Linked DNA regions of Homo sapiens: all the other regions are linked to region 3. Evidence: fine-mapped expression QTL. A gene starts in region 3. Each other region holds a variant in brackets. All regions are shown on one strand. Distances are between the middles of the regions. Region 1 overlaps PHLPP2 (PH domain and leucine rich repeat protein phosphatase 2). Region 2 overlaps AP1G1 (adaptor related protein complex 1 subunit gamma 1). Region 3 holds the start of PHLPP2 (PH domain and leucine rich repeat protein phosphatase 2).

Region 1 (2,678 bases), 57 kb before region 3:
CCATTCCGTATTAAAAAAAAAGAAAAGAAAAAGAAAAAAACTAGTTGTCAGGTTGGGTGCAGTGGCTCATGCCTGTTAATCCCAACACTTTGAGAGGCCAAGACAGGCAGATCACTTGAGTCCAGGAGTTTGAGACCAGCCTGAACAAAACGGTGAAACTGTGTCTCTACAAAAAATAAAATTAGCCAGGTGTGGTGGTGCATCCCTGTGGTCCCAACTACTTAGTAGGCTGAGGAGGAAGGATCACTTGGACCCAGGAGGTCAAGGCTGCAGTGAGCTATGATTGCACCACTGCACTCCAGCCTGAGTGACAGAGTGAAACCATGTCTCTAAAAGCAAAAAACAAACAAAACAAACCCCACAAAAAACAAATAAACTCCACAAAACTAGTTTTCACTTAAAGGTGATGTACACATTAGGTAAACCTGATTACAGGCCTAAAATAGGAAGACATGTCATCTATTTGTTAATTTATAGTGAGAAGGCAAATGACACCTTCTGGAAGGACATTATCTGTAAATACAGTTTTCAAAAAGTACACAAAAAGGTTTGCACATAAAGACTGTAATTCAAAGGCGGTTTGGTAAAGCTAGGAGCAAAAACCAAATTAACTTTAGTGGTACGTCCTTTTCTCTCCAATGCAAAAGCTCAAAATTGCCCAAAGAAGCCACAGCAGAATGTTGTAATTTCTCTTTAAATATCATAACTATATTCATTTTCAGAGATGAAAGCCTGAATCTTCTCAACCTGTCTGAAATTGTTTACAACACAGAAACCTCTTTAAGGATTTAACAGTTATTTCAACTATGAGTTACTGCCTCATAAAACAGTGTCATATTTTGTTTCATAAAAATTGCAAATAAGTCTCCACTCATAGTTGGACTATTAGGTAAACGCTCTGTAAATACAGTTCCAAAGGTCACTCCAATGATAAGTCACTGCAGTCTGTTTAGCCAATGATTCTGCTCTTCCGAAAAAAATCCTATGATACTTACTTTAAGGCCTTGGAGAAGAGGGTGTCTGGCAGCCTCGTGAGTGCATTATGCTGAAGATCCAGCACCTCGAGGGGGATGTGCTCTACCAGTGTTGGAAGGTTTTGCACATGATTGTGTCCCAGCATCAGTTTTCTAAGACTCAAGCTACTCAGAATTCTAAGGGGGGA[G/A]CATACAAACAAACACATTAAAAACTTACTTAAATCATTCTTTCTGAGGCTGTCCTAGCCTATTTAACTGAAATTAGTTAACTTATAGAAACATATTCTCCTAGATTGTATACTCACTGACAAGTGCCTGAGCCAAGAAAGCAGCTATGACCATATGTTTACCTACCACCCACCAGGAAGTCATTAAGGTCATTCTGAGAAAAGGTGAATTAATGAAGGCAAACAGCACAGAGGAGATCTATACTAAAAAGGCAATTTCTAGAATAAATCAATTTAGATTTTAAGTCTAAGCAGCACCAAAAATTCAGTATATTAATATTAACACATCTTGTGAATAAATTCATAACATTTCATTACAATAAAAACTACTATTTATGGAGTGCTTAAAATGTGCTAAGCCACTTAACAATGAAGTTAATTCAGAAAGGTTCAGTAACTTTGATTTGCCTAAGATTTCACACTGCATAGTAAATGGTAAAGTCTGGACTTGAATTAAGGTTTGACTCCAAAGATTGTGTTCATATTTAGTATGTTAAACGCCTCTAGTTTAATTTTAAAGACTCCATAGAAAATAACATTTTATACCTCAATGCTTTGGAATGTATCATTCCCTGCCGCCTTCACCAAGCCCCACTCTCTTTCTCCCACCACTTAGAAAAATCCCATCATCTAGTAAAGGTCAATTCAAATGCCATCTTCTCCATGAAACATTCCCTAATTATTCAAATTTCTTCTGATTTTCTCCATTTAATTTATACAGTGTAGTGATTAAGAGTGAAGGCTCTGGCCGGGGGTGGTGGCTCATGCCTGTAATCCCAGCACTTTGGGAGGCAGAGGCGGGCAGATCACAAAGTCAGGAGATCGAGACCATCCTGGCTAACACGGTGAAACCCCGTTCTCTACTAAAAATACAAAAAAAAATTTAGCCGGGCGTGGCAGCATGTGCCTGTAGTCCCAGCTACTCCGGAAGCTGAGGCAGGAGGATGGTGTGAACTCAGGAGGCAGAGCTTGCAGTGAGCCGAGATCGCGCCACTGCACTCCAGCCTGGGCGATAGAGCGAGACTCTGTCTCAAAAAAAAAAAAAAAAAAAAAAAAAAAAGAGTGAAGGCTCTGGAGTAAAAACGACTACATCCAAGGCCAGGTGTGGTGGCTCACGCCTGTAATCTCAACACTTTGGGAGGCTGAGATGGGCCCATTGCTTGAGCCCAGGAGTTTGAGACCAGTGTGGCCAATATAGCAAAGCCCCGTCTCTACTAAAAATACAAAAATTAGCTGGGTGTGGTGGTGTGCACCCATAGTCCCAGCTACTGAGGGGGAGCTGAGGACAGAGAATCACCTGAGCCCAGCAGGTTGATGCTGCAGTGAGGAGTGACTGTGCCACTACACTCCAGCCTGGGTGACAGAATGAGACCCTGTCTCCAAAAAAAAAAGACTACCTTCAAATGCCAGCTCCCGTCACTTCCTGGTTAAGTGTAACCTTCAACAAGTTACCTAACTGCTCTAAGCTTTACATTCC
Region 2 (2,678 bases), 41 kb after region 3:
ACACAAAGAAATCTCACTTGGTATGAAATTCAAATAACTAAATGAAGTCTTAGAAATTCATTTGGAACCATTTATTCATATCAGAAATAGTCAAAAATCAAACAGAAGAATTGAAAACATTTTCTTTATTTAGAGAAGCTATATATGCTTCTACATCTAATAAAGTTATTATAAAACAACCCACACTTCAGTACTCCACAGCTAAAGGATACTACCAGATACTACCACCTGCAGAGCTATATTAAATAATTCAAATAATAAATGATTTTGACTATTAAAACTGTAATTTGAAGTGGGGCACAGTGGCTCTTGCCTGTAATCCCAGTACTTTGAGAGGCTGAGGGGGGCGGGCTACTTGAGTCCAGGAGTTTGAGACCAGCCTAGGCAACATGGCAAAACCCTGTCTCTACAAAATATACAAAATGAGCCGGGCATGGTGGCATGCACCTGAAATCCCAGCTACTTGGGAAGATCACTTGACCCTGGGAGGTCGAGGCTGCAGTGAGGCAAGATTGTGCCACTGCACTCCAGCCTAAGTGACAGAGCAAGACCTGTAATTGTATCCTCTTAATCTAATATAGAATTGTGTCACTATTCATTAATATAATTAATCAATTAACTACCAAATTTCTACTCAACACAAACTTAAGAGGAAGGAAATTGTCTACTTAAAGATATTAAATTCATATAACATTTATTTAAAACGTTCTTTCAACCTCACCTGCAAAAAGGGGTCACTGATACCAGAAACATCATGTTCTGGTGAATATCCGGACATGATGAGGTTCTTTAAAATACGAACTAATTGGGGCACAAGCTGCAGAGAAGAAAGATGCATCAAAAAACAGTGAATATTGAAGAATGTCTCATGAATAAGCAGGTCCTTTGGTTTAGAAAAAGGGTGTAAGGGTCCCAGTCCAAGCAAATTCTACTGATTTAATATACTAGTGTATTGTAGATGTTTGATAAACTTAGGAGTAACTTAGGGCAATATTCAAGAAGTAGTATGTATTTTATCTGGATAAAACCAAACCAGACTTTTTTATGCAAGAGTTATATGTAAAGATATTACAAATAATATTGGGTCAGAAAGCCTATGGGAACCAGGTAAAACAGATGCCTATGGGGCATACCGCATTTCTAGTTCTGTAGAACTTGAAAAGCCTAGGTGGCAAAAACATGTTCAGTTTTCACCCATTCAAACATTTGCATGTAACATGTCATCATGCCAAAATACAACTAGTGATCTTATTAAAATTATAGCTTTAAAACATACAACCTCAAA[T/C]AGAGAAAAAAATCTCTTCTCTTAAGATAGAAGAGTTATACCCTTTTCCAACAAACAACAGGGAATACCAAAGCTGACAATAGTAATACGGTAATCAAATGGAAGACACATGAAAAAATTACATCTTTCATCTTAAGAGACATCAAGGCCATGAATAATTTCCTCTTCCTATTCTTAACTCCTATGATACAATTTTTTTAAATTTCAGGACTTATTTATATATATGGCTTTATGGCCTGTTTTCTTGTCTTTTCAATGAGACTATACATTCCTTATAATCAGGAATTTCCTTCCTATCCTTCCTTTACTTTATCCATTAAGAGTCCTAACACATAGTAAAGGCAATTTTACTGCCAAGCCGAAGATGTTTTAAATATTGGCACTCATTTCATTTCTGTTGATCAATTACTTGATATTAAAACAAAAGGTTTGCCACAATAGGAACTTTTTATGTTTCCAACTAAAAACTCAATTTTTAGCTATATAAACAACTCTAATGACCAAAAATTAAGTTAAATAGTGTGCAAAGTGAATTGCATTCCATCTCTTTTGCAGGCAATTTTAGCTACAACTCTGCTGCAACTCAGTTATTTTTTCTCACTATATTTAGACTCTGTCCCTTCCCTACTCCCCAAGCCTAAAAGGGGATCAAGATTGAAATGAAAAGCCAAGCTATATCCAAGGCATGCACTCAAAGCATTCAAAACATTAAGGCCACTTATAAACACAAGAAAACACAGTATGTAAGAATTTAAATAAGTTGAGCCATAACAGTTTGGAATTAAGTAACTTATAAGTCACCTAAACAAAAGTCTACTTTGGACAACTCCAAATAAGACAAATCTAAGCCATGGAGATCTGTAAATTCATTAAATCTGTCAACTATGGGCAAAGTTATATTAGAGATAATAATATACCTTTTAAAACCACTTTAAATCAATATTTTTGTAATAAAATGAAGACCAAGTAGTTACCAACCTTATCTTACATACTTCCCAATGGTCTGTTTTTTTTGTACTAGATATAACCCTAGTTATTTTTTATCTGGTTTATTTCTTGGAAAAGTCATTTTTCCTTGGGCTACTAAATTCAGAAATTGTTTTATCCACTGCCAAAAAGGCCAGCACATCACATAACATTACCCTGGGACACAGAGCACAAATGACTAAATGTTCAGCATACAATTCTTGGAACCCAGTTTCATTTTTCAGACAAAAATGCAAGTTATTAAAACTGATGACAAGACAAACAAAATAAGATGACACAGGGAAAGGCTGCAGCCATGAAAATCAGTTGGTGCCCACTACTCTACCTCAAAATCCTTTTAATATTCCAAAACTTCTATGTAAGATTAAGTACAGGTAAGAGAGAAATAAAATCTCTAAGTGTGAAC
Region 3 (2,678 bases):
CGGGGGCCGCCGACTGCCTCAGCCACTGCGCGGGGCGGGGGCGGCAGCGGCCTCTAGCCTCCCTCGTTCCCTCCCTAGTCCGCTTGCCCGCTCGCCCGCTCGCTCGCTCGCTGGTCCATCCGCCTCCTCACCTTCAGGACCCGGATCCCTCCCGGCCGGCGGCTCGCGGGCGCTTCGGGCGGCTCCGGGGGCTCCAGCGGGCCCGCGGGCCCCGGCTCCACCTCCCCCATCGGCGACCCAGGATTCACAGAGACGCCCGGCCCGCGCGACGGCGTGCGGAGCCTCGGCGGCGCGCGCGAGCAACCGGTGGCCCCGCCCCCCGCGGCCCGCCGGCTCCGCCCCTCCGGCGGCTCGCCAGCTCCGCCCCTCCCGCAGCCCCGCTGGACCTAAGCAGCTGCCGGCGCCGAGTGGCCCGGGCGCCACCGAGCCGCATTCCGGCCGCGGCCCGCGTGGCGGAACCTGGCACCACCGCAGAGCGCTGGGCCTCCACTGCCCGCCGCCCTAGGCTTGGAGGACTAGAGCGCAAGGAGGGGTATTTGCTGCTTTCCCCGCCCTCTAAGAAACCCGCGGGAGAAAGAAGCAGGTGGCGCCGGCACCTGTCAATTGTGACAAGACGCTGCCCTCCGCCAGGGTGGCTCTTGTAACTTCCCTCACCTGCCAAGCCGTTGAACGAACTGTTGAGAATACTCACCTTGGCAAGGCCTTTTCTCTTCCTTATCAGAGATGCGTGCGACCTTCTTAAGCAAATTCAACCCAACCTCGTACAAAACGTCCGCTCACCTCCCAGCCATGTTTTAATTCCCTTGCCTCCTCCTGGAGCAAAATTATCAGAATTCGGTGCTCTGCTTCAAGCAGTAATATGGCCTGTGACCCGGTTTATGATTTATTTGCAAGGCTGATTCAGAAAAAAACTTTTAAAAGTTAACTTCTTTTCTTTTCTTTGTTTTGTTTTTCTTTTCGTTCTCGCAGTGATAGTAGTTTTGTTGCCAATGGGCCAAATTTGGAGTCAGCCAGCCTGTTTCCAGATCTCCCCTCTGCCCTTCTTTAGATCTATACCCCTGTGCAAGTTACTTGATCTAAGCCTTTCGTTCTTAAGCTGTGAGAAAGAGATTAAAATCTGCCAAGTAGTTATGATGAAGATTTAGTGCATACAAAGTGCCTAACGTATAGTGGGGATCCATAGTAGCCATTATAATTCCAAAATTCTAAATTGAAGATCCAATCGGTTTCTCGAAAAGTACTCTGTCGATTCCTCCTAAATTTTCCTAGGAAGGCTTCTAGACTTCCAGATTTTTAGGGCTTCCCCTCATACATAGGGTGTTGAATCTTCAAGCAACTTGTAAGGAATTAGACAGCAAAAAACAGTAATTTCTTCACTTTCATAGAACTGTAATTCCAGTACTTTGGGAAGCCAAGGCAGGCAGATTACTTGAGGCCAGGAGTCCGAGACCAGCCTGACCAACATAGCGAAACCCTGTCTATACCAAAAATACAAAAAAATGAGCTGGGCAGGGTGGCGCACGCCTGTAATCCCAGCCACTTGGGAGGTGGAGGCAGGAGAATCGCTTGAACCCGGGAGGCGGAGGTTGCAGTGAGACGAGATCGTGCCACTGCACTCCAGCCTGGGTGACAAAGCAGGACCCTTTGTCCCTATTATCCATTGCTTCAGTTTGCCTCATTCAGACTAACTGTATGTCTAGAATAATTGCAGGCTTAGTACAAGACTTTTAGATTTAACAGAGCAGTCTGTGTCCCCCATCTGAGATATGTATCCATTTGGAGATATTTTAAATGCCAGGACCAAATTTGGCTCTTGCAGGTTCCGACCCCTTTCTGACCTACTTTCTCCCTTCACAAGTTAGCTTTGTATATACCAAAATTCCAATCTCCAGTAATCTTCATTTCTTGGCCTCATTTTAATGCATTAAAAACGATTTGTCACTGTGAGTCTGGTTTAAGGTGGGAGAAAACTCTTAGGTCATCCACCTCCTGGATTTTCCTTCCACCTTGAAATTATTTTCAGGAAAGGTACTCAAAGTAGTTGGATTCCCATTTCAGTGCTTACTGGGTAATTTCTCCCAACAAGAAAACTGGTATATAAGCAATAGGCACCAATATGGAGACAGAAGCAAATTTTAACAAGGGCAGGCAAGCAGTGATAAGAAAAAAATGTGGTTTAGAACAAGTGTTTCTGGCTGGGTGCAGTGGCTCATGCCTGTAATTCAGCACTTTGGGAGGCCAAGACGGGCAGATCACCTGAGGTCAGGAGTTTGAACCCAGCCTGGCCAACATGGCAAAACCCCATCTCTACTAAAAATACAAAAATTAGGCAGTGTGGGGGCACGAGCCTGTAGGCCCAGCTACTCAGGAGGCTGAGGCAGGAGAATCACTTGAACTTGGGAGGTGGAGGTTGCAGTGAGCCGAGATATCGCGCCACTGCACTGCAGTCTGGGTGACAGAGGGAGACTCTTGTCTCAAGGAAAAAAAAAAGTGTTTTTCAAAAGCCTTTTATATTTTTTTTATTTTTGAGACAGGGTCTCGCTTTGTTGCTCAGGCTGGAGTACGGTATGGACACAATCATAGCTCACTGCAGGTTCAACCTCCATGGGCTAAGGTGATCATGCCACCTCAGCCTCCCAGTAGCTGGGACCACAAGTGAGCACCACCCTACGCTTGGC

Evidence for each region. PIP is the estimated chance that this variant, and not a neighbour inherited with it, causes the effect. A credible set is the group of variants that fine-mapping cannot tell apart.
Region 1: its variant is the best candidate, but not a certain one, in a credible set for the expression of PHLPP2 in whole blood (INTERVAL, PIP 0.57).
Region 2: its variant is the best candidate, but not a certain one, in a credible set for the expression of PHLPP2 in whole blood (TOPMed, PIP 0.83).

Annotation. Positions count from the first base shown.
Region 1 is chr16:71,666,183-71,668,860 of GRCh38, forward strand. It overlaps PHLPP2 (PH domain and leucine rich repeat protein phosphatase 2), which reads right to left. Exons shown (of 19, transcript NM_015020.3): 12 at 996-1,151. It also overlaps the pseudogene RNU6-208P. Among named protein-coding and RNA genes, the nearest start is that of SNORA70D, 31 kb to the right of the region's middle. The variant G/A (reference allele first, on the strand shown) is at 1,163.
Region 2 is chr16:71,764,768-71,767,445 of GRCh38, forward strand. AP1G1 (adaptor related protein complex 1 subunit gamma 1) reads right to left here. Exons shown (of 23, transcript NM_001128.6): 7 at 722-817. Among named protein-coding and RNA genes, the nearest start is that of SNORD71, 7.6 kb to the left of the region's middle. The variant T/C (reference allele first, on the strand shown) is at 1,286.
Region 3 is chr16:71,723,638-71,726,315 of GRCh38, forward strand. PHLPP2 (PH domain and leucine rich repeat protein phosphatase 2) reads right to left here and starts at 1,064. Exons shown (of 19, transcript NM_015020.3): 1 at 692-1,064. RefSeq lists a silencer at 1-637.